Linked DNA regions of Homo sapiens: all the other regions are linked to region 1. Evidence: fine-mapped expression QTL. A gene starts in region 1. Each other region holds a variant in brackets. All regions are shown on one strand. Distances are between the middles of the regions.

What was found. PIP is the estimated chance that this variant, and not a neighbour inherited with it, causes the effect.
Region 2: its variant is fine-mapped to the expression of CBX6 in whole blood (TOPMed, PIP above 0.99).
Region 3: its variant is fine-mapped to the expression of CBX6 in whole blood (TOPMed, PIP 0.96).
Region 4: its variant is fine-mapped to the expression of CBX6 in T cells (GENCORD, PIP 0.95).

What each region holds. Positions count from the first base shown.
Region 1 is chr22:38,867,276-38,875,362 of GRCh38, reverse strand. CBX6 (chromobox 6) reads left to right here and starts at 3,147. Exons shown (of 5, transcript NM_014292.5): 1 at 3,147-3,241; 2 at 3,418-3,461; 3 at 3,606-3,671; 4 at 3,817-3,883. The coding sequence starts at 3,173. RefSeq lists enhancers at 809-988, 805-2,004, 1,841-2,390, 2,391-2,941 and silencers at 2,936-3,195, 3,226-3,375, 3,476-3,525.
Region 2 is chr22:38,949,765-38,957,866 of GRCh38, reverse strand. APOBEC3A (apolipoprotein B mRNA editing enzyme catalytic subunit 3A) reads right to left here and starts at 258. Exons shown (of 5, transcript NM_145699.4): 1 at 147-258. The coding sequence starts at 175. RefSeq lists enhancers at 2,666-3,545, 7,412-8,102. The variant C/T (reference allele first, on the strand shown) is at 3,650.
Region 3 is chr22:38,920,512-38,928,613 of GRCh38, reverse strand. LOC105373032 (a long non-coding RNA gene) reads right to left here. Exons shown (of 3, transcript XR_938256.2): 2 at 7,064-7,438; 3 at 2,155-4,497. Among named protein-coding and RNA genes, the nearest start is that of APOBEC3A, 33 kb to the left of the region's middle. The variant C/T (reference allele first, on the strand shown) is at 3,296.
Region 4 is chr22:38,808,566-38,816,667 of GRCh38, reverse strand. No RefSeq gene overlaps it. Among named protein-coding and RNA genes, the nearest start is that of DNAL4, 18 kb to the right of the region's middle. The variant A/G (reference allele first, on the strand shown) is at 3,564.

The DNA of each region.
Region 1 (8,087 bases):
ACTTCATCTCATCACATCCCTCCTCTACTCAAAACTCCCTCACGCTTCCCACTGCCTGAGACAAAGTCCAAACCTACCCAGCATTCAAGGCCCTTCCCAAGTTCAGTCCAACCCATCTTTCCATTGCCATCCTTTGCCGTACTGCCCCAACCCATGCCATAGCAGACTTCTTTCCCATCCCCAAAACACACTCTCAGGCTCTGATGTGCTTGTTCAAGTTGACACCTCCACCCGGGACACCCTTCCCATTCTTCACTTGTAGGCCAATTCCCATTTGTCTTTCCGGCCCCAAATCAGAGGTCTCCACCTCTGAGAAGCCCTCACAGCCTCACCTCCACGTGGTAGGTTGCTCCCCTATGTCCACTCCCAAGACATCCTGTACAGACTCTTGTGGCAGGCTTATAATGCCTCCCCGAAAGATGTCCGTGTCCTAGCCCCTAGCCCCCAGAACCTGTGGATAGGATACCTTACTTACCATCCATGTTACCCTATGGTAAGAGGGTCTTTGCAAATCTGATTAAGTTGAGGTTGAGACGGAAAGATCATTCTCAATTATTTGGGCAGACCCAATGTAATCACAAGTGTTGTTAAAAGAAAGAGGCAGAAGCCAGGTGCGGTGGCTCACGCCTGTAATCCCAGTACTTTGGGAGGCTGAGGCGGGTGGATTACTTGAGGTCAGGAGTTCGAGACCAGCCTGGCTAACATGGTGAAACCCCCATCTCTACTAAATACAAAAATTAGCCGGGTGTGGTGACGCATGCCTGTAATCCCAGCTACTTGGGAGGCTGAGACTGGGAGAATTGTTTGAAACCGGGAGGCAGAGGTTGCAGTGAGCCGAGATTGTGCCACTGCACTCCCACCTGGGTGACTGAGCAAGACTCCATCTCAAAAACAAAAACAAAAGAAAGAAAGAAGCAGGAAGTGAGCAAAGGGATCGTGGAAACAGAGATTTGAGTGATGAAGCCATGAGCCAAGAAATGCCAGCAACATTTGGAAGCTGGATGAGGCACGGAACAGATACTCTCCTTGACCCTCCAAAAAGGGACCAGCCCTGAGGATACCTTCACTTGGGCCCAGTAACACTGATTTGGGACTTCCCGCCTCCAGAGTCATCAGATAACAAATGTGAGTCATTTTAAGCCACTGAGCTTGTGTTAATTTGTGAGAGCAGCAACACGAAACTCCTACACCTTTATTCTAGCATTAGTCACACTGTGTGACAGGTGCCGTTCTCACTCCACTGACAGCTCCTCAGCCTGGGGCACCTTTGTTTCCTGATGGTTTCACACAAAGCCTGGTGCTTCACAAGGGCTCACAAACACTGCTGAATGAATCAACAAGTGGACTCACCTGCTTCATCCCCCGCCTGTCTCCGTCAGCCTGAACACACACACACTGTCATACCCACTCCTCTCACCTGCTCACCCACCACCACCCACATCTCCCAGGAGGACATTTCTATTTTTACCACAGCAGCTCACCTTGGGCTGGCCAGCAAATAGCTGTTTCCCTGGAACATACTGATTTTAAGTGAGGAGAGGGATTTCTCTCAAGGTAATAATTGGACAAATCTGCTGGGAGAAAAAGACTAACATTTTGCTATGGTGGATTTGAAACCCAAGAATTGGCATTGTAGCACAGAAACGCAAAAATCTTTCCTAATGAGCCATTGATGTTCGCAAGACACAACCCTGACTCTTCACAATCCCCATTCCTCCCCACCCCATCTCAGCCCCAAGGTGGTCACTGGAAGGATGGTGAAATCTGTATTTAATGACACTGAAAGATGTCCACTTTATAGCATTAAGGGAGAAAAGCAGATTCCAGAACAGTGTGAATAGCGTGATCCCATTTTGTTAAAAAATTAAATCTACAGACAATGTGTATGTGTATGTATATACATACATACATAGGTGTACGTGAGTTTATGTACGCATAGAGCAGAGGCTGGAAGATTGGTGAAGATGTTAACAATGGTTTTATGGGGGTTATGGACAGTTGTTTTATCTGTATTTTTAAAATTGTTTTACAAAGAACAAGACTACTAACATAATGGGAAATAAAGTTCAAGTAATTTCAACATTTAAAAAGTGGAGCGTTTTGCGCGGCAGGGCTATTTTTTGTGTGTCCGTTCCTGGACAGCCCCAGCTCGATCCCCCGCCCCTCCTCAAGTGGGAAGCTGGGATCTGGGCTCCCCAGAGCAATGGCGGAAGCTTCGCGCAGCTGCGGGCGGGGAGAGGGACGCGGCCAGGTCGGGGGGCCGGGAGGGGTGCTGGGAATCGGAAAACACAGATATGACCGCGAAGGCGGTTTCTGCCGAATGACCAGATGATGACCCGCTGTGGGCCCAAGGCGGAGTGCGGGGAGCCCGTTCCTGCCCGCGGTCCCTCTCCCTCCCCCACTGCCACACCGGCCCCGCCGAATCCTCCCCGGTCTCCTGGGCGAGGACAGGTGCCGCCCGAGACCCCGGCCGCAGACAGATGCCCACGGTCACTCCGGCCTTCCTCGGCCCCATTCGCCGCACACCCCCTTCCTGCGGTGGCGTTTTTGTTTTAACTCTTCTGAACTGGTTACAAAACCACCCTCCCACGAATACATAAATAATGGGTGGGGGGCGATGTTTTAAAGAAATTCCCGCAAGGCCTGGCAAGGCAACAGCAACTGCATTTCTGCTGCATCATATTTAACTGTTTGCAGGCTGCTGCGGGAGATGCGCGGTGGCGGCGAGACTCGGGCTCCACAGCCCTTCTCCGCCCGGGGCCTGGCGAGACTCGCGTGGGGATTAAGAGGCAAGGAGAGGGTGTCAGCGATCGGGCGCCGGCAAGATGTGAGGGGGGGTGATAAGCGTAAGGCCGCAGCGTGCCCACAAGCCGGGCACCCATCGGGTCGGCCGGCAATTGCTCCCTCCGCCCGCGCGGCCCCTTTAAGAGCCAGCGCGCGCCCCCGCCCCGCGAGCGCCGACTTTCCCTAGCAACCGCCCCGGGGGAGGGGGAGGTCCTGGCAACCGCGCGCCAGCCGCGAGGATCACGTGACGGCCCGCAGCTGGAACGCGAGCGCGCGCCCCGCCGCGCTCCCGCCCGCCGGGGCCTGGGCGCTGCGGCGCGTGCGCGAGCGGTGCCGCACCGGCCGCGGGCGCAGGGAGTATTATGGGCTGTGGGTGCCGCTGAGCAAGATGGAGCTGTCTGCAGTGGGCGAGCGGGTCTTCGCGGCCGAATCCATCATCAAACGGCGGATCCGAAAGGTGAGCCGCCGCCCGGGGCGGGCCGCCGCTGTCCGCAGCCGGGGCCGGGGCCGGGGGCCCTCGGGGCGAAGCGGTCCCGCTAGCCCGGCTCCCTCGCCCAGCCCCGCGCCGCCGCCTCCTCGCGTCCCCGCATCCTCCCCACCCCCACCCCCGTTTTTCTCCCCTCTGTTTTTCAGGGACGCATCGAGTACCTGGTGAAATGGAAGGGGTGGGCGATCAAGTGAGTGTCGCGGGGTCCGGGGGCGTCGCGGGAGGGGAGGCAGCGGGCACCGGGGCCTGGGGTGGGGGTGCGCGCTCTTGCTCTCGCCGCGTGCCTGTCCCTCTCTGGTCTTCATCCTGATTTTGTGCGTTTGTGACTCGGCAGGTACAGCACTTGGGAGCCCGAGGAGAACATCCTGGACTCGCGGCTCATTGCAGCCTTCGAACAAAAGTGAGTTGTTGGGGAAGCTGGCAGGGGCTGCGAGGCCGAGGCTCGGCTGGGGCGCCGCGCGGGGAAGCGGGAGAGCCGGGGAGGGCAGCGCGGAGTGGGGCCCGGGAAGGGGCTCTTTTTAACCTCTGGTGTTTTTCGGCCGCAGGGAGAGGGAGCGTGAGCTGTATGGGCCCAAGAAGAGGGGACCCAAACCCAAAACTTTCCTCCTGAAGGTAACCTGGCCCAGCCCCAGCAGCATCCCCCTCTCGGGCCCCCAGCCCCGGCACAGCACGGGGCCTGGAAGGGAGGGACAGATACGCGGCCGCCCAAGCGGGCCGGCCTTTTCAGAGGGGCCCCAGCTGGGCAGGGGGTGGTTGTGAGCCCCCCCAGAAGCCCCTGATGGCAGGCCTCAGCCAGCATCAGCTTCAACAAGAGGGTTTTGGGACTGGGGATAATCCTCCCTGTTGAAACCAGGGGCTGGGGATGCCTTTAGGGCTCCAGGAAAGGGGGTGGCTGAGGCAGGTGGGGGATGCCCATGGGAAGGGGGCATTTGTTTGAGCTGTTATGACTGTGCTGGGAGTTGGAACCCAGGGGGAGAGTGAGTGGGGTCCCACCTCCTGGCAGGGCACAAGGAGAGGATTTGGGGGACCACCTGCCTCCCTGCCCCCAGCTTCCCCCGTTCAGTCTTTCAGGATTTGTTCTTCATGGCTCCCCTCCTTTCTTGGGGATCCAACTTGAATTTGACCTCAAATCATTTTACTTTGAATTTATCACCCAGGCTGGGCCACTAACTTTAGGGCTCTGAGCCTCAGTTTCCCCCCACTCCCGGCCATTTCTGGGGGATGGGGATGTGGGAGTGAGAGCATAGCATATTAGTCTCTGCTAGGGAGGGAAGAACTTCCAGAGGAAGCCATCTTGGAGGATTTGGGTTTTTATTTTATTTTGACAAGGAAAAACAGAGTCTGGGAAAGGAAGGGCAAGATGGCCCTAGGTGGCAGGCACGGCTGCAGGTGGGACTCAGTGGGCCCCCTGTCTTCCTGTAGTGCTACGGATGCCTCAGGGCCCCCTCCCACCCGACAGCCGGTGACTTTGTGGGAGGACTCTTTTTCGGAGAAGAGAAGCAGAAGTGAAAGAAATGTTGGTTTCCAGAATTTCATATTTTTATAACCCCCACCCTCAAGCGACGCACATCCTAGGGGATCCAGGGAGTAACCTTAACCCTGATGCTTCTCTTGGGGAGGGATGGGCGGAGCAGCTGGAAGGCTGGTGGGCTGTGTGACAGCCTCTCAGTGCAGCTGGGGCACCCTCTAGCGGCGAAGCGAGTATGACCATGAGCATTGATACACAGAACGCCTTTTTTTCTTGATAGTTCTTTTGGTTCCTGAGCTGGCTGTGGGCCTAATACAGGGCTGAGCCCCCACATGGATTATCTCCTTTAATTCTTTCAACAGTTCCAAGAAGTAAGGAGTATTATCCCCATTTCACAGATAAAAAATCAAGGCCCAGGAAGGGAAAGTGACTTACCCGAGGTCCAGCTTCCTGGCTTCATCCTGTCTCCTTTTCTTCATCTTGTGCCTTGAGTAGTCCATGTCAGGTTAAAGGGGGAAGGCAGACACACACAGGAAACTATGAAGGCTGCAGAGTTGGCGTGGCAGGGGATAGAGACACAGATAGTAGGACTTTTTTATCTGGACCCTAAGAAACAGGTAGCCTGAGAGTGATGTGGATGTTTGTGAGGGGCTATGGAGATTAGCTTGGGCTGAACACATTGTTCTGGGGCTCCCTGAGAGGCAGTATGGCAGAGTCAGCAAATTACACTCAGCGCTTTCTGCCAGGAACTACTCTGAAGCAAACAGGAGCCCATGAGATAGCTTCCATCCTCCCTGTTTCACGCATGGGGAAACAGGGCCAGAGGTGTCCAGTAACTTGCCCACAGACATGGGGAGAGGCCATGGTAGAGTTCAGGTGCTTAAACCTTCACACCATCTACGGTGCTTGCCAAGCCCACAGAGCTATGCCTGTCACCTGGTCAGGGTGCAATAAGCATGTTGGCTACAGTTATTTTTAATTCATCAGGCAGACCCAGGTCCCACTTTCAAAGAGTTCTCCATGTGGGGAGGAAGAGGAAGGGTAAACCCTTTAAAAAATAATAATATATAGAAAGTATAAAGTAAGAAATGTCAATGTATGCCAAGCATACATTGGAAAAAGATCACTGCTTATAAGTCCACCACCCATGGGTAGGTCTGTTCAGTTATTTGCTGCGTGCCAGGCACTGTGCTGAGCAGGTGCCATGTACTCTCTGATCATCATAGGAGTGCCCGTAGTAGGCCCTGTGATGGTTCAGCAGATAAGGAAAGGAGACTCACTGAGCCAGGGTTTCTTTCCGGGCCTGCCATTTGCCCACACTCTGCCCCTCCCCCAGGAACAGTCCGTCACCACTGGACTCTTGGAAGCATAATTTCAGAAGTCAGGAAGCTCAGGCAGTTTGCAGAGGGAGTAAACACTTTCTGAGAGTCAGAAAGTGTGGGGATGCACCTGCAGAATGTCTGCTTACCACGCCAAAAAAGCCTGGGCTTTTCCCTGCCTTTGTGTGGGAAGGGGTCTGAGGGGCCCAATCCCTGGGAGCTGGGCTGGCAGCATTGGCATGGGCAGGCCCGGCTTCATGTGCTGCCACCTAGTGGCGGAAGGGACTGTTAACCAAGCAGCCCCAGGAGGCCCCAGCCTGGGCTGGGAGGACCACGTGGAGTCACAGTCCCTTCTCCCATGGGGGTGAACGCCACGTTCTAAATGAAGACATCCTTGCTTAGCCAACAAATAAGCCAGCAAACATCTCTCCTGAGAGTTGTGATCAAATGGTAATCTAGTCTTGTCTGAGAGGCATATGGGCTACCTCCAGGTACTAGTTAAGCATCCAATGCTGTGGGGAGTGGGAGGTAGAGAGACCTCACAACAGATCCCACCCTCATGGACCTCACAGACCAACCGTGGGGACATGGCCTTCTTCTCGGTCCCAACCATCTCCCACCTAGATTGAGGGCAGCCATCACCTAACAAGCCTCCCTGCCCCAGTAGGATCTCTAAAACCCACGCCCCTTGTGGCACCCCACACACACCCCAGCCTCTGTCCCCAGCCCTTGCTTTCAGTCCTGTGACTCCTCGCCATCTTCTCACACCACTGGGATCTTGCCCAGAGGACTCTCTGCCTCTACCATCTGTCTGTCTTAGCAGGCCACCGCAGCCTCTGGAACTGTCTGGGGTGCAGTCAGGGCTCAGTAAGGACCAGGACTTTTTCCTACTTAGGTGTCAGGGCCGGGCTTTGATGTTTCATTCTCCAAGCCTGGGGTCTGTGCTTCTCTGGGCTCTGTGGTTCTTTCGCTGCACGAAATCACTTCATATTCCCACTGCCCACCGTCCTCCCTGTGATAGGGCAGCTCTCCAGGGGAGAGTCTGTGCGTGTGCAGCTGTAACCCCAAGCAACTGGTGCCTGGTGCCTCAGTACCTTCCTTAGTAAAGAAAGGACTGGCCATGCAGACAGCTTACATCGCCTTAGGAGTCCCTTAGCCTCTCTCCATTTAGTGGCATCTGACAACGGGTGGGTTGGACCGGAACCTGGGGTCTCTTGAGAGCCCTGTGGCTTTAAAGAGATTTCATGCCTGGAAGGACAGCTGGAAGGACAGGCCTGGGAGCCTGGGGCAGTATTCCTGGCTGCCCACGACCTCTGCACCATCATCCTGCCCCAGACCATCTTGGCACAGAGAATAGGCAGTGGTCGGGCCCACTTCTAGGCCTGTCCCCACCAAACTCACGTCTGACCGGGTTGGGTTCCAGCCCAGGCTTTGGGATGCATTGGTACCAGTTCACTCTGAGCCAGGCACTGGGCAGACAAGTAAATGAGACCCATCCAGGGAAGTATGGTGGCTGAGGTGCTGGCCAGCTGAGGAGACAGGCTGGAGCCGGAGGTCAGCCTGCTCAAAGGCGAGAGAGTACGGGGCATTGGGGACATGGTGGCTCAGCAGGACTTGGTGCGGGGGAGCAGGGAGGACCCACCTCCTCCTTTCTGTCACCACGAATGAGTCCGTGGAGGAGTCCCCACTTGGGCTGGATCTGCCACAGAGCAGGGGTTTAGCAGGGGCTTCTGAGCAAACGGCTGCCCTCCCGACACTGTGTCCCAATTGTCGACACTCCTCCGTGTCAGCAAGGGCAGCCATGGAGTGGCCCAGGGCCCTCTGTGGAGCTAACAGAGGTGGTGGGTGATAGAAAAAACACAGTTTTGGAATTGGGCCTGGACAAGGGTGTCCTGACTCTGACCTTGGAGTCAGAGGCAAATTGCTTCATCTCTGAACCTCTGTTTCCTTTTCTAAGTCGAGGTCATGAAGACCAGTGATTATCTTAAATGATCTCGGGATCGCTGGCTGAGAGGCTCTACTTAGGGCT
Region 2 (8,102 bases), 82 kb before region 1:
GGAACCTAGAGCAAGAGGCCAGGTCCAGAGAGAGGGTCAGGAGGAAAAGAGAGGCCCCAGGGGTTTGAGGGTGAGAGGTGAGTGCTCATCAGAAAAGCTCAAAGAGGAGGCTGAGGCGCAGAGGTGCTCGGAGGGGCTTCCCATACCTGGGCCCGGATGCTGGGCTGGCTTCCATGTGCTTGTCCCTTCTCGGTTCCTGGTCTGTGTCCTCCCGCTCTTGCGACTTGCTCAAGGCGTGGTGTTAAGATCTTCACCAACATTCTCTTAGGATTCAGGAGCCTTAATATATCATCAGAGCAACCTGGAAGCTGCTGAGTCAGCGATACCCTGCCCCACCCCTTCTCCAGCTCAGGCCGAGTGTGCCACCCTCATTAGCGTCAGAACAAGGAAGTTCTCTGCCATGCCTCTGGGCAAGCTTTGGTTTTGATGTGCCCACTCTGACCACTGAACCACCAGACACTGTGGAGTGACAATGGGGATGTAGAGCTGGCCACACTTTGCTCCCTGTGGGCCACAGGAATCTGGAAGGCAGGAGACCAGGGGGCAGGTGAGAAGACAGGTGTCCACACCCTGGAGAAAGACCCTGAATAACACTCAGCGGTCCAGAGAGCAGGCTCCAGGACAGCCACCCCTGTGTCCTCCCCTGTGGCCAGTGCAGGATGTGCCTGGTCCAGGCTCCCTGGCACCTGCTGCATCCTGTGCTCTCTGTTAGGGTCCTGCATCTTCTTCCCTGGCTGTGAAGATGGGAGACCAGCAGGTCCTGCATCCTCCTATGCATCAGTGTATCTAATAATTGTAAACTAGAGGGAGGAGTGTTTTCATCCCCATTACCCAGAGGAGATGCTAAAGGCTCTGAAAGGTACCTAGAGATCCAGGCCCTCCCAGGAAACAGAGTCCCCAGCAGGGACACACCCCCACCCCCCTGTCAGAAGGGCCACCCTGTGCCCTTTCTCCCACCTCTGGGCCCTGCAGAAATGTGAGGGACACTGTGCTCCTGCCCCAAGTGAGCCCCTGAGTCCTGGCGGCAGGTCTGGCGCCGTCCTTTCCCAGGTCCACCTGCTACACCCAGCACAGCTGCCCCTGGAAGGTGCTGGCCCTGTGGGCCCAGGGGCTGTCCCCTGTCCTGCCTGCTCCCCTGTTCTGGCTCTTACTAGACCCCCCTGTCTTTGGCCAGCAATCCTCCCACCTCAGCACAGTGTCCCTGCCATTTTGGTGGGCGCCACAGACTAGAAGAGGCCCTGTTCTCTGCCGTGAGGACCCCTCCCATTCTGTCTCCAGATGTTGGACTCTTCTAGTCAAGAAGATGTCCCCTGGGGGCAGTCAACTGCCATTTGAGTCTCAGGTGGTTCTGGTGTGAGCTCATCTTGGTGTGTTGTGTGAGTCTGACCAGAGGCCACCCTTCCCAGTTCACACCAGAGGCATGCACAGCTGGACGCCCCGCAGTACCCACAGCCCACCTGGGCCAGAGACCACACTTGTACCAACTTTGGGAGGATCCAACCCTTCCCCAACCCTTCCCGGTGGCTCCTGCTGCCCAGAGTGTGATGGCCTTTCCCCTGGCTCAATAATGCATCAAATGCCCCTGGAGCAAATACACCCCTGGACCCATGGTCAGGACAGCCCCCACATGAGCTTTCTATGGGGAGACCCAGGAGAGCTGCAACAGGGGACAGCGCTTTGTTCAGCATCCCTGGGGCGTCTCCTGCATCTCCTGGCTCTGGGTCCTCAGCCTTGGGTTCCAGGGTCTCCCCAGCTCACCCACCCTGGGCACGTCCTCCTCCCTGCTGCCCCAGCTGGCCCAAGCCCCACTGGATTCATGACTGGCCCATGCCTGCCTCCCCTCTCTGATCCAGACAGGTCCAGATCTTCCAGAATGTCTCCAAATCTGTAAGATCCACTTTATGGCCCATCACAGAAACAGGCACATTGTCTGTTTCTCTTTCTAGTTTTACAAACCAGTCAGGTTAGACTATCAGCACATCTGCACATCTGTGAACCTTCTCATCTGATGACAAAGAAGGCCTCAGACTAAAATGTTTAAAGCAAAGTGGGGCCCAGCTACTGTCCAGAGTTCAATTCTCAGTAACTCACTGTACAAGCCATGCACCCAGGCAGAGCTCCAGAGAGGAGAGAAGACAGGGTGTTGGGGGGTCCCCACTAGCAGAGAGGGAGGCCAGGACCCTCCCTTGCCAAGGGTGGACAGGGGGAGCCACTGGTTGGGCGTCTGCAGCCCAGACATGAGCGGGGAACAGTCTCACTCTAGCCCCTGGACCCAGGAACTTCCATAAGGGCCACAACCTGGAACCTCTGAGTGAGCTCCCCAGGGACTTATGTGCCCTACCCCCTGCCAGTGCCCCCACCGACCACACCCACATCCTTCTGTGCACTAGGGCCTGACTCTCTCCCGGCAGGAATGTCCCAGACACAACTGGCCCCTTCCTGGTCCCCCTGCAGCCAGGGCAAGGCAGGGTCTTCAAGGCATCAGGGGAACCCAGGGGTGGTTAAGAGTGTGCACCTTCCCTAGGCCAACTGTAAGGAAGACGGAAGGAGATTCCACCCTTTCCTGGGGAAGGACAGCCCCTCCCCCATTTCTGTCCCTGGAATGTTGGCTGAACAATCAATGCGATAACTGTGAAAATGTGATAAAATACCAGGTCTTGCTGGAGTTTCCATAGGATCCTGGGGAAGGTCCAAGGCGAGAGAAAGAAACTGGATCCCCAAGGGGGAGGCAGGAGAATGGCCTCCTTAACAGGTGCAAGCTTCCCTGGGCTTTGCCCAGGTCCCCTGTAAGGAAAACTGGGGACAGGGCAAGTGCCCCACAGGGGTCCAGACTGGGTGAGAGGGACAGACCAGTGCAGAGGGACCCTGAAGTGGTCCCTGATTGCTGGGCCACTCAGCCCAGGTCACCCTGGGACCAGAACGGAGGTCCCGCTCGGGTCTGGAGTCCATGCTGCTGTGTATGAGGTCCTGGCTCTGCCATCACTGTGGGGCCCCAACCCCTACAGCCCAGAGGAACCACAGGCTTCCAGTTCCTAGCCCAGGTCTGAGCATTGTCATGGGGCTGCGTCCAGTCCCCTCCCCTGGACCCACAGGGCTCCCAGGTCATAGGCAAAGCTCTGAGATGAGACCCAGGGAAGCTGGGAGTCTGAGGAGCTCGGGAGAGAAAGGGCTCCCTGCTCCTGTGCCCCGCCCCCAACAGAGTGACATGACGAAAAGGACCCTTCCTTGGGATACCCCAGACACACCCAGATGCCCACTTCAACATTGCCCGTGGAGCAGGGTGAGGGGACAGTCTCAGCGTCCACCTGCTCCTCTGGCTTTGATTCTGGGCTCTGACAACAGCCCCGCCCTCCTCAGCCTAGAAGCAAGTGATCGAAAAAACCAAAGGATCTCTCCAAGCAAAGGGGCCAAGCTCGGGGGGGCGGGGGGGACAAAGGGTGGGGGGAATAGGGAGGTGGAGGAGGTGGCTGCACCTGCCCTTGGACAGGGGACAGTGCTGTCCTCCCAGGGTGGGGCCCTCTGTCCCCCATACCCCCACTGGGGTGGCCTCTTTGCCCAGAGTGACTACATGTTGTCCATTTTTCGGTCACTTGTTTCAAGGGGTGGAGCTGGGGCTGTTGTCAGAACCCAGAAATGAAAACGAGAGGAT[C/T]GGGGTTGATGACGTGGTTTCCCCAGCACTCTTCACGGTAAGAATTGCTGCAATCCTCTGACTTGGGGCAGAGCTGAGGTAGACATCTGGGTGTGTCTGGGAAACCCCGGGGAAGGTTCCTTTCTGTCCTGTCACTGTCTGTGTGTGCTTATGTGTCTGTGTGTGTCTGTGTCTTTGCCACCAGAAGGAGTTGGGCCTGTTTGCTCATGAGCAGCTGTCGAGGAGGCCCACTGTGTACCACATATGCGGCTCCTGAGGTCCTGAGGTGGAAGGTCCCTACTGCATCCACCACCCCGCGGGGCAGAGAAGGAGCCCAGAGAAGGAGGGGCGTCCCACCTCGTGGAAGGCCAGGAATCAGGAAGACCAGTGTCCCTTGTGCTAGGGCAGCACAGTGGGGTCCCTCTCTCTTTCTCCCTCACCCCCATGCTCCTGGTCAACCTCCTCCCACTCCAGCCCTGGCTGCCAGGGCCAGCCCCCCACCTTCTCTATGGGGTGGGACGCTGGTGAGCCACGTATTCACGGGAGGACCCTCAGCACAGAATGAGCCCTGGACAGTCCATGCATGTGACTGACATTGCTCACTTCACCAGCCCATCTGCTCCCTCCCTTCCTGATGCAGGCAGCAGGAGAGGGGCAGAGACACAGACATCCCAGGAGGGAAAACCTTCTGGAAGAGCCTACTTGACATGCCTGGTATCCTTGGCTCCCAGACAAGTCTGGACCACCGATCCCACATGGTAAAAAGGACCCTTCCACAAGATACTCCCAGACACAGCCAGATGCCCCATAGAGAAGGTGGTGGGCAGGTCCTGGTGGTCCCGGCCCCACCCAGTCCTCCGAGGGAAGCATCCACAGCTGTTTCTGCTCCTTGGCCTCCGACACCCCAGTGCCATCCCCGGAGGGCCTGGGCTGCCCCTGCACGGTGAGCTCCGGGCCAGTGACAGCCGGGGGCCCTGCTCTCGGCACCACCCTCTTCCAGGGGTGGAGACCCAGGCCTTGGGTCTGTGAGCTCCTAGGTCTGTTTCTGGATGCAGCTCAGCTCCCTCTGCTATGCACAGAGTAAGTGCCCAGCATGTGTGCCATGGCTCAAGTTTGGGATGTAGGAGTCTGGGCTGGGAGGAAGGGCCTGGCTTCCGCCTCTGGCTTGGGATGGAGAGGGCACCAAGCTCATGGTGTCACTCGTGTCACTTGGCCGTTCACTGGTGCTCGGCAGAGGTTCTCTCGCAGGCTCCTGTGTTTACTGTATGGTGTCTTCCGCTGTGCAGAAATTTCAAATATGGCCCAGTAAAATATATCAGGCTGTCTTCCCTTGGGCTCACATCTAAGACCATGGCTGCTCCACCCTTCCTATGTGTAGAAATTCTTACCTGTCTCTCCACGGTATGTCGCTTGTCCAGGGAAGATTCCATGCCTGCCTCGTGGAAACACCCGGAGCAGAAAAGGCAGCATCCCCGTGGCAGGGAGGCCTGAAGGCCATAGTGTCTGGCATTGTGTGCCTTGTTTATGCCAGCTTTCTCAACCACAAGATTACAAAAGTGTTTTCCTGTATTTCTTCCTATCCTCTTGCATATGTAGATAAATACGCATGTGTGAGACACACATGCACACACACACACACATGCACATACCACCACACATTTGTTGAGCCAAGTGGGTGATGCTCCGTCGAGTGCACCAAGCTGGCTTCTTCCTCGGGGCTTTTGTGCCTGTGCATGGGTCCCTTTTCATGGGCTGTTTGAGCCCAGCTTCTCCCATGACAGCCCCTGTGTCTGCCTCCCACCCGGGCACAGAGCAGGAACAGCAGCCCTGCTCTCTTCACTAGGCAAGCGTGCTGTGCACAGGTAGGTGTTCAATATTGGATGAATAATTCATACTAACAAACCCTGTTCAACCCACCAAGTGTAAACTGCTGAGGTCTCCCAATATTCCTGGGGACACACTTTAGAATTCACAGTTCACCCAGGGCGGGTGAAAGCTTGCTTTTCTTTTTCCTCTTCAGCCACGGAACTTGCCGATGCCCACTTTTCCAATGCCAGCGTGAAAGCCCCAGTGAGTGCCCTAGAGGGGCAGGACACCAGCTGAAGCTCTTTTTGTAAAGTCTGTGCAAACTGCAGCAATCCACAACCATGAGCTTCACCTAATTCTCCTCCTTACTAATGAGGAAGTACACGGGTGGCCCAGAAATAAAGAATTTACACAGGCACTCTCTAATGAGATTTTATAAATTGCTACTCTTAGGCAATGTGACCTAGTGGGCAATAATGTCAGCACCTTGCATTGTGCAATTTGCCAGAGCCCAGCCCATGTCCAGTCCAAAGGGGGTGAAATTTCTCCTTGTGGCTTTAGAGCTTCCTTCTGAGCACCCGTCCACCCTCCTACACACACCCTTCTGAATGTTATAGCTTTATAACTGTATTGAGACTTTGTACAGCTCACTCTTCCAATTGTTATAGCTTTAAAATAGTATGGACTTTTCTTTTCTTTTTTTGAGACAAGAGTCTTGTTCTGTCACCCAGGCTGGAGTACAGTCATGTGATCTCAGCTCACTGCAACCTCTGCCTCTCGGGTTCAAACGATTCTCCTGCCTCAGCCTCCTGAGTAGCTGGGAACTACAGGCGTGCACCACCACACCCAGCTAATTTTTGTATTTTTAGTAGAGACAGGGTTTCACCATGTTGACCAGGCTGGTCTTGAACTCCTGACCTCAGGTGATCTGCCTGCCTCAGCCTCCCAAAGTGCTGGGATTACAGGCATGAGCCACCATGCCCAGCCATGTATTGACATTTTCTACCTTAACTCTCTTTATCTCTCGTAGTTTTCAAAATCAAATGAGTGGATCCAAGTCCTCTGAATGCAATGACCAGCTTGTCAGGTTCCAGTAAAGCCCTATCAACATTTTAAATGTGATTGCACTCGTTTATAGATTAGTTGGGTAGATGATTGATACTGGCAACCTCAAGCCTGCATTTATAATTAAATTGAGACTTCCATCAAGGGCTGGGCACACTGTGGGAGCTTAAGGAAGGACAGTGTGCTTCCTGCCCTGGCACCTCATGGCAGCCAGGCTTGAAGGGTCCCCAGAGAAGCCTTCACCACCCCCACGTGACGCCCTGCCCTTTGCTTGTGTCTCTGGGTTTGATAACAGCCCTGACTCCACTCATTGGAAGTAAGTGATAAAAATTGTGCAGTCATTCTGGGCAAAGGGGCCAGTGTAAGGGAGGCAAGAGGGGCTCACCCTGGTGAAAGAACCCCACAGTTAGTCATGTCACAGGGCGGGTCTCAGGGAGACCGGACCACCGTCCCCCAGAACCCCACCTTCCAAGGGCCCAGGCCCCCTGTCCCCTGGGGCTCACTCACAGCTTAGCCACGACCTCTTTCTTCCTCCCTGGGATGAGGCCCAGTGCCTGGAGATGGCCAGCCATCCCTCTGGGGGCCACCAGGTGACCAGCAGGAGAGCTGCGTCTGCAGGAGCAGATGTGGGGGCAGAGCCTGGATCCTGAGCGTGGTCGCAGGCCTGGATCTTGTTGTATGTAATGACCGAACCCTACTCAGCCCCTCAGGCAGCTCTGCTGGTCCCCACAGCCACAGACCTCCCTCCAGCTCCCTCTGTTCCCACGCCCCTGTCCTCCTGGCTCCTTCGTGTCCACTGCCTCCTGTCCTCCCGCAGTTGCCTGCAGCCCTGCCCTGCCCCTCTCCTCCCTCCTCTCTTCTCCTTTCCTTCCATCTCTCCATGGATCTGAGTCTACTAGCTCTTCCCTTCGGGCCTAAACGGCTGCCAGACTTCTTCCTGCCCTCCTGCGCCATCCCCTCTCACTGCTGCTTCTAATCCCCTCCACTAAATAATTATTTTCCCCCAGGCCCATATAGTCACTGTCAACGTTGTGGCACAGTTTGGCCCCAGATATGTGAGCAGAAGTTTGCCAAGGGGAGACCTGGGGAAGGCTGCCCTTTCTGGACAATCCTGTCGTCCAGGGTGACCAGGGCCGGGAGGCTGGACCCAGGGGCTTCAGGCTCTGCAGATGGAAAGGCAAGAGAGCACCAGTGCCCACCATGGCTGAGGTTGGGAAGTGGGGGCTGCTGTCCAGGGGCAGAGTCCATCCTCCATGTGGAACCCTTCCCACCTGGGCTCCCTCTCTAGTGGGTGGAATCCGGAAGGGGTGGGAACAGGGCTGCTCCCAAGGCCCCCTGACTACACGTGTGGCTCCTTTCCAACAGGGAGACTCCCCGCTGGCTCTCCTCTTATTGCCTGGCCTGTCCGTTCCGGCCAGGGCTGGCCAGCAGTGGGGAGCTCTGTGAGTGAGGTCAGAGTTTGAATTCAGGTGCTTGTCCCGGAAGGGTTAGCTGTGTTTTCTCATCCCAGAAGGAGTTAGTGTGACTTTTGCCCCACATGAAGGTCCACTCCAAAAGGAATGACATTTATTCATTTCCTAGTGTTTATTTACACACTTGCAAT
Region 3 (8,102 bases), 53 kb before region 1:
TAGCTCTTGTTGCCCAGGCTGGAGTGCAGTGGCACGATCTCAGCTCACTGCAACCTCTCCCTCCTGGGTTCAAGCAATTCTCCTGCCTCAGCCTCCCAAGTAGCTGGAATTACAGGTGCCACGACCACACCTGGCTAATCGTTTGTATTTTCAGTAGCGACAGGGTTTCCTCATGTTGGCCAGGCTGGTCTCGAACTCCTGACCTCAGGTGATCCACCCATCTCGGCCTCCCAATGGGCTGGGATTACAGGCATGAGCCACTTCAGCCAGCCTTGTATACTTTTTTATTTTATTTTATTTTGAGACAGAATCTCACTCTGTCACACAGGCTGGAGTGCAGTGGTATGATCTCGGCTCACTGCAACCTCTGCCTCCCAGGTTCAAGCAATTCTTCTACCTCAGCCCCTTGAGTAGCTGGAATTACAGGCGCGGGCCACTACACCTGGCTAATTTTTGTGTTTTTAGTAGAGACAGGGTTTCACCATGTTGGTCAAACAGGTCTCGAACTCCTGACCTCGTGATCTGCCCGCCTCGGCCTCCCAAAGTGCTGGGATTACAGGTGTGAGCCACTGCGCCTGGCCTCTTATTCACTTTTTTAAAAGAGGATTTCAAAGCATCTGGAAAACATGCCTGCTGTTGGAAACCCTGCACGGCAAATTCAGTTTGCAAGCGTCATTCAGATGTTGGTTGACGACAATACACCCGCCTCTCGGGCTGAGCGGTTGCGCCGTGTTGGGTCCTTTTTCTGTCACTCGGTGACACTCCAAGTTCTGTGCAGTCCTTGGTACAAACAAGGCATGGTTTGGAGGGAAGGGACGATGGTGTTTGCATTGCTTGGGGAACAACCCAGCTAGCATTTTCCACATACTCTGCATATACTATCCAGTTTATGACACTGGAGAATCTTGCGTCTTCTGCTGGGAATCATTGGCTCTTCCTCCCCCATATTCACAGAATCTTGCCAGTCTTCGAACAGGTGGGGGTCAGTGACTGTGAGAACAGGCACCCCAGTCCCGGCTTTGAGTCTCCGTTCTGCTCCAATCTGCCCAGGCGTCTCCTTTCACTACCAGCTGCTAAGTAATCTCCTCTCCGACAGCTCGGCCAGGGCGACTCACAGCGCCCCCTGCCCTGCAGCCAGTGATCTATCCCGCTGCTCATTCCCCGGGGATCTGCCACCTCCAGCGCCGGTGCTGCCATCTGCTCTGGCCGCAGCCCGCCAGGGGACGCAGGGCCCAGGACGGGCAATGGGGGGGTGCCGCCCTCCCCAGCCCCCTCTGCGGCAACCCCCCCCCCCGCCCCCGGCAGCCTGAATCCCACCCACCCCGGGCCGCGACACTCCCACCACCGCCCGGGTGGCACCAGGCTCGCGCCACGAGCCGGGGTTGTGAGGACTCAGCGACTCTAGCAGCGCCGCGCACTGGGAATCTTTGAACAGTGCGTTGATCTTTGTGTTTTAATTACCACTGTCGCCCTTAGACCCAACACTCTAGTTTCTATTTATTTATTTATTTTTGAGACAGAGTCTCACTCTGTCGCCCACAGTGGAGTGCAGTGGTGTGATCACGGCTCACTGCAACGTCTGCCTCCTGGGTTCAAGCGATTCTCCTGACTCAGCCTCCTGAGTAGCTGGGATTACAGGCACCTGCCACCACGCCCGGCTCATTTTTGTATTTTTAGTAGAGACAGAGTTTCGCCATGTTGGCCAGACTGATCTTGAACTCCTGACCTCGGGTGATCCGCCCGTCTCAGCCTCCCAAAGTGCTGGGATTACAGGTGTGAGCCACCACGCCCGGCCTCGTTTTTAAAAATGAGTGTTTTTAAACACTCCTATTGGGAGGCTGGGCGCAGTGGCTCACACCTGTAATCCCAGCGCTTTGGAAGGCCGAGGCAGGTAGATCGCCTGAGGTCAGGAGTTCGAGACCAGCCTGGCCAACATGGCGAAACGCCGTCTCTACTAAAAATACAAAAATTAGCCAGGTGTGGTGGTACACATCTGTAATCCCAGCTACTTGGGAGGCTGAGGCAGGAGAATCACTTGAATCTGGGAGGCAGAGGTTGCAGTGAGCTGAGTTCACACCACTGCACTCCAGCCTGGGTGACCAGAGCGAAAACCTGTTTCAAAAAAAAAAAAAAAGAATTATTATATTGGGAGTATTTTGTTGTTTTTGTTGTTGTTAATTGAAAATCCATACCAATACTGAGAAAATCTCTCATTTTTTGTGTGTTACTGGCAAAGAGAAAATGGAAGAATGGCAACTAGAAGAACAAAACTTGGACACAGATGAGTGTCTATAAACGAGGGCCCTGGGCTTGGGGCTGAGGCTGGGTGCCAGTCAGTGTCAGCTCTCAGGAAGGGAACTGGGCAAAGGGATTTCTGTCCTTTTTGGATTTGTGTACCCACTTGTTTTGGACAGAAGAGGCTGGGTTATGCTACAGGAACAAACCTCCATGATCTCAGTGGCCTAAGTTCATGAAGCCTTTTTCTTGCTTAAGTTAAATATCCATGAAGTGGAGAGGGGCAGTCTATACCCAGTCCTCACTAAGGGACACAGGCTGACACAGACCCCTGTCTGGAACATTGACCACAGGGTCAAGGCAGTGATGACGCACGTTGTTCCCTGGCCGTTAAAGCTTGTACCTGGCAGGGATGTGTCACTTTCACTCCCATTTCATTGGCCAAAGCAAATCACGTGTTCACACCTAACCTCAATGATGCGGGAAAGCCTGACTCCACCATGGGCCCAAAAAGGGAGAAAGGGATGTTTCAGTGTAGCGACAGGATGATGACCAGCACATCATCCTGTCACTGCACTTGGTCAACTTCTTTGTGAAGGTCTGAACCAATAAGTAAGCCAAGGAAAAGGGAAGAGATGTGATCATTGGAAAGAAGCCACATTTGTCATCATTTCTAGGTTATTTTTCTATCCCCTGTCCACTTAAGAGGGCCATGCCTGGCAGAAGTTTGCATCAGTGCCCAGCCCACAGAGGCATGAGTAGGCCTGGGCACGGAGTACACAGTTACCCAGTATGCTCCTTACCTACCTGGCACCTCTTGGCTGACAGAAAAGCAAAAAGCTTCAATAGGTGAGAACCAGGGGAAAGAGACTTAAAACAAAGTATTAATAAATCATATTCACATAGGGCTTCTCGCTTGCAAGTTATAGTTTATGTCTGTTATTTTTTAATTTTCATGGTTATTGTAGTAGATATGTCACACTGTATCTCCAATTCACCAAAATGGATCAATGACTAAAAAGAGGTTCTATAAAATGCAAAGTAATGATGAAAATGGCAG[C/T]ATAAATCCTCAGAAGGGCACTGTAAACATAATGAGTAAATGGTTCTGCAATATAACTATGGAAATACAAAACTATATATTCAAGGACAAACAAGTTCTTGAGTGGTGATTTTACACATGCAACCATAAATGAAAATTGTGAGTCTAAGTTCAGTGAGGAATACTTGAACATTTCATTTATTGGACAAGCAATCCATTTGCCCCTAGTCCTCGATATATTACTGTTAAAATGAAAATGCTGATATATAGTAGTCTGGAGCCATAAAAAGTGTTTCTCATTATCTTTAGAAAAAGCAACCAATTCCATTTTTCCAGAATAAGCACAAAATAACTTTCTAATGTAAAATTGATTATTCTTCTTATTAAAGGTGCGGAGGAGACTAAAGCTACAGAAACATCATTCTAAATTGCTGTCCTCTTAGCAAATGCACCTAGATATCAGTCGTAAAATTGCCAAGAAGACCGTAAATCAGCTCACAGATCATAATGAAGACTGTGCTTGGAGAGAGATCCAAAGGATATTGACAAAGCTCCTCTATCAGATAACAGAGCACACAAAGCAGAAATGCAATTACTAGTGCACACACATGTTAGCCAATACTTTGCTTTTGAGCAAACCAAACTCCTCATGTGCAAGGCATAAAACAGCCCTTGGTGCATGTGGGGTTCAAATATGAGGGAAAAATGCTGCCTGGCTTGTCGCTTTGTTTTTCGTGCCAAAGTATGATAAGAGGCTTTTCATTTACAGATTATTTACTTTGTGAGTCATGTGCTAGAAATGGCACTTCAGGACCCGTGCCAGAGTTGAAGCCGCTGTGGCTGAGCAGCGAAGAGCTTTGCTCTGTGAATAAAAGAGGTTGTTCCTCATGCTGCTTTATTCACAGAGAAGAGTTAATGGTCAACAAAATGCTTCTGGACCCTGATTCAGGGTTAAAGGAAGTAATAAAAAGAATACAAACTTCGTCTAATTCTGGATGAGCTCAATATTGGCACAGCTTTTCAGCCTGCTGTGAGGAAACACAGGTAGTATGCAGGTCAGTACACTTCCAGTCGGGGATGACAGAAATTCAATTTCAAGTGGATTAAACAATAAATGGAACCAATTAAAGCATTTGTGATGTCAGGGCTCTGGCTCTGGCTCGCTGCAGGTGCCTTGGCTCTGTTCTCTTCCTTGCGTTGCCTTCTTTTCAGACCAGCGTCTCCTGTGGTAGAAAAATTGTTACAGCAGCGCCAAGCCCACAGTACGCCCCACCTATCTGGACCAACAGAGAGTCTCTGTCTCCCACAATTCCCAGGAAGGTCCTGAGGTTAGCATGGATTAGACTGGCTCAGGGCACGTGTCCACTCCTGAGCCAATCACGGTGTGGCTGGGGGTGGAACCCACTTACTGCTCCACCCCTGCCCTGATGGCAGCAAACAGCAAAGCAGCAGCAAAAAGGAGAGAAGGGAGTGAGGGAAGAAAGGAGGAGGGAGCAGAGGAAGGGAAGGAGAGAAAGGAGGGAGGGAAGAAAGGAGGAGGGAGCAGAGGAAGGGAAGGAGAGAAGGGAGGGAGGGAAGAAAGGAGGAGGGAGGAGAGGAAGGGAAGGAGAGAAGGGAGGGAGGGAAGAAAGGAGGAGGGAGGAGAGGAAGGAGGAAGGGAGGGAGAGAGAGGAAGAAAGAAATGAAGATCTCATGGATATGAGAACATAATTAATGTTTCAAACACTCTCTTTAAATTTAAAATCATTGATGAAACTCTACTTTTTTTTGAATTACAATTGATGATCTATGAATGTGCCAAATGCCCATTCAGTGGTCTGTGGTGTGAAACGTTGAGAAAGGATGCCTCGAGATGCTTCTAACACCTAAAAATACCCCTTGCAGGCCAGCTGTGGTGGCTCATGCCTGTAATCCCAGCACTTTGGGAGGCCGAGACAGGCGGATCACTTGAGGTCAGGAATTTGAGACCAGCCTGGCCGACATGGTGAAACCCCGTCTCTACTAAAATACAAAAATTAGCCTTGCATGGTGGTGTGCCCCTGTAGTCCCAGCTACTTGGGAGGCTGAGGCATGAGAATCACTTGAACCTGGGAGGCGGAGGTTGCAGTGAGCCGAGATCACGCCATTGCACTCCAGCCTGGGCAACAAGAGTGAAACTCTGACTCAAAGGGTCATGGACCCTTTGCAGATCCATGTTCTCCTAAGTAGCAAATACTTAGGCAATTATTACAAATGAATTCCCCTAATAAAACTCTCCTCCCACCTCCTCCTCACAGGACATGGAGTCAGTGCATGGCAGGGAGAGAGCTGGGAGCGTCAGGCCAGGCTTTCCACTGCGGTGTCTTTCTGGGTGTCAGCTGCACCACTGTCCTGAACTCTGTGCTGACCGGGCACTAGTCTGGTGTTTGAGACCACAGTGGGGACAGCACCAGCCCCACGTCGTTGGCGCTGTCTACAGGCTGTCCCCACCAAGGCAGCCCCTCTCTCTGCCCGGTCCTCTGTGGCTCTGCTTCTCCTTCAGCTCCTTCATCCTACCCCCTTGTCAGTCTGGTTTCTCTGTTTGTACAAGGATTTGACACCTGTCCCAAAAGGGCACCCTCAGCTCTGGGTCTCCTCACCTTCCAGGTCTGACAGCCAAGGCTAACCTATGATAACCACTGGTTCTCGATTCTAAATCTCCAGAAGAGAGAATCTGATTTGTGCAGCCTGCATCAGGCATCCACTCCTGGACCAACCAGGAAGCCTACGGGGCCCACCAGTGTGGGTAATATGAGAAACATGCTCACCTGTCCAAACCCAAAGGATGAACTTAGAGACATAGAGAATTGCAGAGGTGAGACTTGTGTTGTTGTTGTTGTTTTGTTTTTGTTTTGTTTTGTGACAGAGTTTCACTCTTGTCACTCAGGCTGGAGTGCAATGGTTCCATCTCGGCTCACCGCAACCTCCGCCTCCTGGGTTCAAGTGATTCTCCTGCCTTAGCCTCCCGAGTAGCTGGGATTACAGGCATGCACCACCATGCCCAGCTAATTTTGTAGGTTTTTTCTTTGTTTTTGTTTTTTTTTAGTAGAGATGGGGGTTTCTCCATGTTAGTCAGGCTGGTCTTGAACTCCCGACTTCAGGGGATCTGCCTGCCTTGGCCTCCCAAAGTCTGGGATTACAGGCATGAGCCACTGCGCCCAGCCAGAAGTGAGACTTTTAATGACAGTCTTGCAAGATCTGGTGTCTGGTAGGCAGGCACACCCAGTACAGTTACAACAAGCAATGTATCCCCTAGTAGGCAAGTCCCTCCCCCGGTTCCTCATAGGCTGAGTACCATGGGGTCACCATCTTCCCAGACATCACCTATTGGTCGTTGGGTTGGGGCTTTTAGGTGTTTACTTTAGGGTTGTCTCGCTGCAGTTTGTTGTGGCCCATAATGCACTGCAATCATAGTCAGCTAAGGTGCTCTTCAAGTATTTGACTTATGACCCAGGTGGCCAGGCAAGCTGATAAGAATAGATAAAGTGAGCTATTTTTCAGGCTAGTAAACTTTCATTCTAGACTAAACGCTTTGCTTTGGGTGGGGGTAACTAAGGGGGCCCTGACCAGCAGGGGTCTAGTATATCCTGTCCATCCGCAGGTTGTGGGCCCAAGCCTATTTGAGGCACTTTGCCTTGGAAATGGGCCACCGTAGACATTATTTCCTACAGTAGGAGAGAAGCTTGAAGCAAAGGGGACATTGACTCCGTAAGTACTTTAAAGCATGTCTACAAATCCTTTGAAAGACATCCTGACATCCTCCAAACGTACCTTGTGAAGACGGCTCATAAGGGCAACGCAGCCTAGATGGAGCAACAGGTGGACAGTCTCAAGCCGACCGTGCAGAATTAGGAAAAGCCCCAGCAGACCAGAAAAATCTCCATTCCCTGGTGACATGGGGAGAAAGCTGGCCTGACATGGCTCCAGAGCTGGCAGCACCTCTGGGTCCTGATAGAAGTCTGGGTGGCTGCCAAGCTGAGTCATCCAGGAGCTAAGGGAAACGACCTACCTGTAGCTAAGACCAAGCCTCACACCCCATCACCTGGGCTGGATCTTGTTCTCCTGCCAGATCTGTCGTATCTTTATTGGCTCTCCCAGTGACGGCTTCTGTGGTTGGAAATCATTCATTAGTTTTGCTGCCTGAAACTGAACCATAAATGAGGCACTGAGACAGGGGAAAAGCCTGGTCCATGTCGAGATCTGAGCTCAACCCTAGACCTAAGCTCCTGACTCCATACCCTGATTAGCAACAGCTGCCATCACAAAACCAATTTTTTTTTTTTGAATTTCGCTCTTTTTGCCCAGGCTGGAGTGCAATGGTGCAATCTCAGCTCACTGCAACCTCTGCCTCCTGGGTTCAAGCGATTCTCTTGCCTCAGCCTCCTGAGTAGCTGGGATTACAAGCACATGACACCATGCCCACCTAATTTTGTATTTTTAGTAGAGCCAGGGTTTCACCATGTTGGCCAGACTGGTCTCGAACTCTTGACCTCAGGTGATCCGCCCGCCTCGGCCTCCCAAGGTAGTGGGATTACAGGCATGAGCCACCATGCCCAGCAGACAAAACTAACTTTCTAAGCTTTTAACATGACCCTCAGACATTAACCAAGATGCTTGTCTAGACCACAAGCCCATTTTTCTTTTGTAGAATTTGCATTTCTCTCCTTGCATAAGAAGGAAGTATCCAGTGATGGTGAGAAAAACATGGGATCAGCAAGACCTGGGTTCGAGCCCTAGATTCCCCACTTAGGAGCCACAGAGTCTCACTCAGGAGGCTCACTTCTATGAGGCTGAATCTTGATTGGGAAAT
Region 4 (8,102 bases), 59 kb after region 1:
GGATCCCCTTCCACTTTATCTTCTCAATAACATTTCTCCTGCATTACCAACCTATCCTTATCTACTTTGTCATTTCAATGGGCCTCCACGTCTGCCCCAGTATCTCCTCTCTTACACAGAATCCCCATCTTGGGCCAATACCTCCTGCAGCTGTCACTCATTCCTTTTCTCCTTTCACTGCAAAACCTCTTGAAAAATCAGGAGTATCAGGGGTCCCCAAGACCACCCACAGGTTTGATGATTCACTGGAAAGACTCACAGAACTCAGAAAAGCTGCTAAACTCATGGTTACGGTTTATTACATTGAAAAGATACAGATGCAAATTAGCCAAGGAGAAAGGCATATAGGGTGGAATCCAGGACAGACCAGGAGCAGGATTCCAGTTGTTCTTTCCCAAAGTCCTACGGAGAGCACTTCATTCTCTCAGCAATGATGTGTGACACACACACAAGAGACTTGTCCATCAGGGAAGCTCACCCCAGTCTTGGTGTCCAGGGTCTATACTGGGGGATGGTTATGTAATGGAGCACCCGTATGACTGACCTTAACTACTCAGTCTCAGGACCCTCTCCAGAGGTCAAACTGATACAGTGTGACCAAGGGCATTTGGCATAAAAGACTTTGTCAGCATAAATTATCTGGCATGGCCCAAGGTAAACAAAGATAGTCTCATCAGGCAGGACCTTCCAAGGGTTTAGAAGTTACCTGCTGGGGAGCTGCTCCAGGCCCAGTCCTTTCTTTGGAATGCACAGGGTTCCATCAGCCCAAGCCTGCTGAGTTAACCCTTTGCTAGACAGTGGGTCTACAGTTTTTTGGGGGTTTTGGGTGTTTTGTTTTTGTTTTTGAGATGGAGTCTCACTTTGTCACCCAGACTGGAGTGCAGTGGCACCATCTTGGCCCACTGCAACCTCTGCCTCCCGGGTTCAAGCGATTCTCCTGCCTCAGTCTCCCGAGGAGCTGGGATTACAGGCATGTGCCACCACACCCGGCTAATTTTTATATTTTTAGTAGAGACGGGGTTTCGCCATGTTGGCCAGGCTGGTCTCAAACTCCTGAGCTCAAAATAATCCTCCTGCCTTGGCCTCCCAAAGTACTGGGATTACAGGCGTGAGCCACCACAGTCAGCCAGGTCTACAGTTTTGATGCCACTTCATCCCACTTTCATTCACATCTTGTCCAGTTCCCATGAGGCTGCTGTTCCCCCCACACCCCCACTCCACCGAAGTCTTACCTGTCCAGGCCAACAATAACGTCCACGTTACAAAATCCAATGGCCAGGCCTCTGCCATTGTCTTAGCCACACTCTCAGCTGCATCTAACATACTCCTTCCTTCTTGAAAAATGTATCCTCTTGCCTTCCAAAACACACCCTCTCCTGGTTTGTCTTTCACCTCAGTGGTTCTCAAATTGTAGCCTGCATTACAATCGCCTGGAGCGAGTTAAAGCACTGGTCGCTGACCTCTGGGCTCCACCCTGGAGGTTCTGAGGCAGTAGATCTGGGGTGGGGCCCAATCGTCTGCTTCTCTAACAAGCGCCAGATGATGCTATGGCTGCTGGTCCTGGGACCACACTTTGAGAACTACTGCTCTATTTCACTGGCGGTTCCTACTAGGACTCCTTCTGGTGCCTCCTCATCTCCCTGGTCCCTAAATGCTGCACTACCCCAGGGCGCAGTTCTGGGTCTCTTTATTCTTTCTACCTAGATGCTCTCCCTAGGAAATCTCATCCAAGCCCATGGCTTTGACTCCCTCCTAGATTTTTCCCTGAACTCCACATTTGCATATCCAGGTTACCCAATAGGAGTCTCAAAATGTAGGTATCCAAAACTAAGCACTTGATCTTCCTCTCCCTACCCCACTCACCCCCTTCTCAATAAATAGGCTCAAATAAATAGGCTCAATTCCGGTTGCTCATTGACTTCTCTCTTTCTATTGCCCATCTATTCAATCCATCGCCCATTGACTCAACTACTAACCCATATCTCAACCCACGTTCACTCCTTTCCACTCTGCTACCACTCTGTTCCAAGCCACCATTGTCTCTTAAAAATGCAGTTTCCTCTCTTAAAATCCATTCTCTGGCCGGGTGCAATAGTAACTCACCCCTGTAATCCCAACACTTTGGGAGGTCGGGCAGGAGGATTGCTTGAGCCGAGGAATTCAAGACCAGCCTAGGCAACAGAATGAGATCCTGTCTCCACAAAATTTTTTTTTTTTTTTAATTAGCTGGGCGTGGTGGTGCACACCTGTAGTTCTAGCTACTCTGGAGGCTGAGGCGGGAGGATCACTTGAGTCTGGGAGATAGAGGCTACAGTGAGCCCTGATTGTTCCACTATACTCCAGCCTGAGTCACAGAGTGGGACTCTTAAAAAAAGAATTAGTTCTCCTTATGACACCTACAATGATCATGTTGCAATCAAAATATTGTCACTCCCCTCTGTAAAACTCCAAAGCAGCCCGGGCATGGTGGCTCACGCCTGTAATCCCAGCACTTTGGAAGGCCAAGGCAGGTGGATCACCTGAGGTCAGGAGTTTGAGACCAGCCTGGCCAACACAGTGAAACCCCGTCTCTATTAAAAATACAAAAATTAGCTGGGCATGGTGGCAGGTGCCTGTAAGCCCAGCTACTCAGTAGGCTGAAGCAGGAGAATTGCTTGAACCCAGGAGGCGGAGATTGCAGTCCAGCCTGGGCAACATAGCCAAGACTCTGTTGAAAAGAAAAGAGAAGAGAAGAGAAGAGAAGAGAAGAGAAGAGAAGAGAAGAGAAAAGAAAGAAAAAAAATAGAAAAGAAAAGAAAAGAAAAAAGAAAAGAGAAAAGGAAAAGACAAGACAAGACAAGACTCTCCAAAGCTTCCCAGTTCGCTTAAACTAAAATCCACGCCCTCGTGGTGACTCTCAAAGCCCTCTGGGATCCTGTCCCTGCCCACCTCCTGGATTTTATGTGGTCACTCTCTCCCCTCTGCTCATTCCACTCCAGGACACACTGGCCTTCTTGCTGCCCCTCAAACGTGCCAGATTCAGATAACCTGCATGTGTCATTCTCTCAACCTGGAATGTTCCTTCCCCAGGTCTCAGTGGACTTGCTCCTTTTGATCATCCAAGTCTCAGCTGTCATGCAGCAATCACAGATGTGTTTGCTGACCACCTGGCCATAAGTAGCTGCCTGGTCGCTCTCTGTCATTTGCCACATACCCTCTATTACCGCAGACCTGGGAACCAAGCCCTCCCTGCTCAACCTGGAACCAAACCTGCCAGGGTACCCTGCTCTATCATCCTTTTTCATTCTCACCACAGTATGAGTCTCTCTTTGACAATGGTATTTTACTAACTTCCTATGATAAGTCACCAGAGTGTCCTCCTGAATAAACTGTCAGCTCTACGAGGGAAGGGACTGTATTTGTCTTTTTCACCACCATATAGATCCAGTGCCCTGGCACAGAGTAGGTGTTTAACACTGATTTGCTGAATACTAATAACTGGTATATATTGAGTGCTTTTATATGACAGGAACTCAGTTCTCTGAGTACTTGACATATATTAGTTTATTTAATCCAAGGAGGCA[A/G]GTTCCATAAGAAAACTGAGGCCCAGAGAGGGAGACTTCCCCAAGATCACATGGCTGGGAAGTGACAACACTAGATTTTTATTTTTATTTATTTATTTATTTTGAGACAGAGTTTCACTCTTGTTGCCCATTGCCCAGGCTGGAGTGCAGTGATCTCGGCTCACTGCAGCCTCCAACCTCCACCTCCCAGGTTCAAGCAATTCTCCTGCCTCAGCCTCCCAAGTAGCCTGGATTACAGGTGCCCACCACCACGCCCAGCTAATTTTTGTATTTTTAGTAGAGATGGGGTTTCACCATGTTGGCCAGGCTGGTCTTGAACTCCTGACCTCAGGTGATCCACCCACCTCGGCCTCCCAAAGTGCTGGGATTACAAGTGTGAGCCGTCACGCCCAGCTGCAACACTAGAATTTAATCCAGTCTGACTCCTGAACAAGCACCCAAATGCTGCACAATATGGTCTGTAATTAAGGGGTTCCCCTTAGTCCCTCAAGGATGTCAAAATATTCGTGTGAGAAACAAAGGCTGGTGCAGATTTCTGTTGCAGACCAGCTTTCCCACTGAGAAAACCTAGAAAGACAGAACATATTTAAGACATCCAAGGAAAAGGCAGGTACAGTGGCTCACACCTGTAATCCCAGCACTTTGGGAGGCCAAGGCAGGCAGATCACTTGAGGCCAGGAGTTCAAGACCAGCCTAACCAACATGGTGAAACCCTGTCTCTACTAAAAATACAAAAATTAGCTGGGCATGATGGTGCGTGCCTGTAATCCCAGTTACTCGGGAGGCTGAGGCAGGAGAATCACTTGAACCCGGGAAATGGAGGCTGCAGTGAGCCGAGGTCATGCCATTGCACTCCAGCCTGGGCAACAGAGTGAGAATCCATCTCAAAAAAAATAAAAGAAGGCATCCAAGGAAGGCATTGGAGAGGTATCAAGACAAGTCAGAGTTGAGGGACAAAGATCCCAGGAAGAAGAGAAGTTCAGAGAGGTGAGCCTGGATTCTGGGGCAGCAGCCTTCCTCTTATGGCCCCTATCCACTAACAACAAATCGCTAAGTTGAGCAGCCAGTTAATATCTTCAAGAAATTACACGACAATGAGAACTAGAGCTTCCAGCTAAAAACTGAAGTTTAGGATGAGGAGCTCTGGTAAATGACCCAGGCTTTTAGTGGGTTACACACTCTGAGTAGGGAAAAAGTCCAGCCCTCCCACACACAGAATGGCAGTTTCCAAGCATCCCATTCATTGATTGAATTAAGGTGTCTGCCTCTTCACCAACAGCTTGCCAGAAGCCAAGTAAATTCTCTGGAGGAAGAGAACAACGCCATCCAAACTCTCACATTATATTTTTGTTACACAAAGTTTGGCATTCAATAAAAAAAAAATTACCCGACATATCTGGAAATGAAACAGAATGACTGAAAATCCAGACGGGGGAAAAAAATTTTTTTAAGGCCACTAGACCTACACATGTGATAAAATTGCCTACAATTAAATCTCACACACACACATACACACACATACATATATACCCACAAATATACACAAATACACACATATATACACACATGCACACACACGCACACACATACACATACACACACATTACACACATATATACACATGCTCATGCACATATGCACATACACATACCCACACATGCACAAACATACACACATACAAACACTCACACACAAACACACACACATGCACATACACACATACAAACACATACACACACATGCACACACATACACACAAACATACACAAACACACACACATTACACACACACACATATACAGACACACACGACCACAAGTAAAACTAGGGAAACCTAAATAAGACAGTATCAATGTTAATATCCTGGTTGTGATGTTGTACTATACTCTCATAGGATGTTACCATTAAGGGAAGCTGGGTAAAGGGTACATGGGCTCTCTCTGTGTTATTTCTTACAACTGAGTGAGTCTACAATTATTTTGAAATAAAATGTTTCATTTAAAACAGGCCATGATGGGCCTGTTATCCAGATAGTGGTGTTATGAGACATAGACTTGAAAATAATTATCATTAATATATTCAGGGCTTTTTTTTGAGACAGTGTCTCACTCTTCCCCCAAGGCTGGAGTGGCTCCATCTCGGCTCACTGCAACCTCCAGCTCCCAGGCTCAAGGGATCATCCCACTTCAGCCACCTGAGTAGCTGGGACTGCAGGTGTGCAACACTGCACCTGGCTAATTTTTGTATTTTTTGTAAAGATGGGGTTTCACCATGTTGCTTAGGCTGGTCTTGAACTTCTGGGCTCAAAGGATCCTCCTGCCTTGTCCTCCCAAAGTGCTGGGAATACAGGGAAGCCTATTCAGGACTTTAGATGACAAATGGAAGAATTTCAACAGAGGATTGTAAACTGTAAAAAAGAATCAAATGGAAATGATAGAACTGAAAAATACATTAAACGAACTTATGAACTCAATAAATAGATTTAACAGCAGATTAGATACAGCTGAAGTGAACTCTATTAGAAAGACCAAAAGAAATTACCCAGAATAAAGACTGAGAGAAAAGAATGAAAAGTGCAGAAAAGGGTATAAAGATTAATATGGGACATAGTGAAAAGATCTAACATGTAAGGAGACCCAGAAGAAGTAAACAGCACAATTAGGGCGGAAATAATGGTTTTTTTGTTTTGTTTTGTTTTGAGACAGAGTCTCACTCTGTCACCCAGGCTGGAGTGCAGTGGCATGATCTTGGCTCACTGCAACCTCTGCCCCCCAGGTTCAAGTGATTCTCCTGCCTCAGCCTCCCAAGTAGCTGAGATTACAGGCACCTGCCACCACACCTGGCTAATTTTTGTATTTTTAGTAGAGATGGGGTTTCACCATATTGGTCAGGCTGGTCTTGAACTCCTGCCACCACACCTGGCCGGAAATAATGTTTTAATAGAGACCATCTAAGAATTTTCCCAAATCTGTTGAAAGACATTAAGCCACAGATTCAAGAATCTCAGGGAACCCCAAGCATGAAAAGAAAACTACAACTAGGCCCCTAATAGTGAAACAGTTGTAAATAGTGAAACATTTGTAAATCAAACACAAAGAGAAAAATCTTAAAAGCATCCAAAGGAAAAAGATGCATTACCTTTCAAGGAGCAGTAGCAAGACTGAAAGCTAACTTTTCAACAGAAGGAATGGAGAAAGGAAGACAATAAACCAATATCTGCAAAGTGCAGAAAGGAAATTACTGCCACCCTGGAACTCTAGAGACAGTGAAAACATCCTTCAGAAATGGAGATGAAATAACGATATTTTCAGACAAAGAAAGAACTAAGAGGACTTATCACTGGTGTTTTTTGTCGTCAACAGAACTTCACAAAAGGAAGTGCTTTAGGGAGCAGGAAAATGATCCCTGAAGGAAGCGTGGTGATTCCAGTGAAGAACAACAGAAAGGGTACATATGTGGATAAATCTTACTTAATGTTGATTGAAAATAAAAGCAAGTACGTCTTGTGAGTTTTACGATTCATGACAATAAAAACAAAAATTGGGAAGAGGTGAATGCAATTAAAATATTCTAATGTCCTTACATTGTCCTGGAAGTAGCAAAAGTATTAATTTTATATTAAACTCTAATACGTCCAGGATCAATGTTATATTTTCCTACAGTAATCATTAAAGGATTGCAAAAGAGTATGTAACTAACAAGCTACCAAGAATATAAAAATAATTCAAAAAAGGCCCAAAAAGGGGAGAAAAAAGGGACTCCCAAAGGAAAGGACAAATAGAAAATAAATAGTAAGTGGGCTGATTTAAACAATTTTAATGTAAATTAGTAATTGCACTAAATATAAAAAGATACGTATTCCAAATAGTGTCAATCTGGGTTTAAAAAAAACTACATAGAAAGATTGAAATTAAAAGGATAGAAAATATATAGCATGCAAACATTACTTCAAAGGAAGTTGGTATAGCTATATTAAAGTAGACTTAAGGGCAAGAAGCATTGCTAAAAATAAAAAGGACATTTCATGATGGTAAAGAATCAATCTCTTAGGACGGTATGATGGTTTTAAATTTGTATGCACATATGAACATAGCTTCATAACATATAAAGTAAAAATTGGCAGAACCAAGTCTGGGCGCGGTGGCTCACACCTGTAATCCCAGAACTTTGGGAGGCAAGGCAGATGAATCATCTGAGGTCAGGAGTTCGAGACCAGGCTGACTAACATGGCAAAACCCCGTCTCAACTAAAAACACAAAAATTAGCTGAGCATTGTGGCAGGTGCCTGTAATCCCAGCTATTTGGGAGGCTGAGGCATGGGAGTCGTTTCACCCTGGGAGGCAGAGGTTGCAATGAGCCAAGATCATGCCACTACACTCCAGCCTGGGCTGGACAGAGCGAAACTCAGTCTCAAAAAAAAACCAAACCAAAACAAAACAAAAAATTGGCAGAACCAAAAGGAAAATTTAACAAGTGCAAAACAAGAGTTGACTAAATGGAATATTTTAACACACTTCTCTCAGTAACTTATAGGACAAG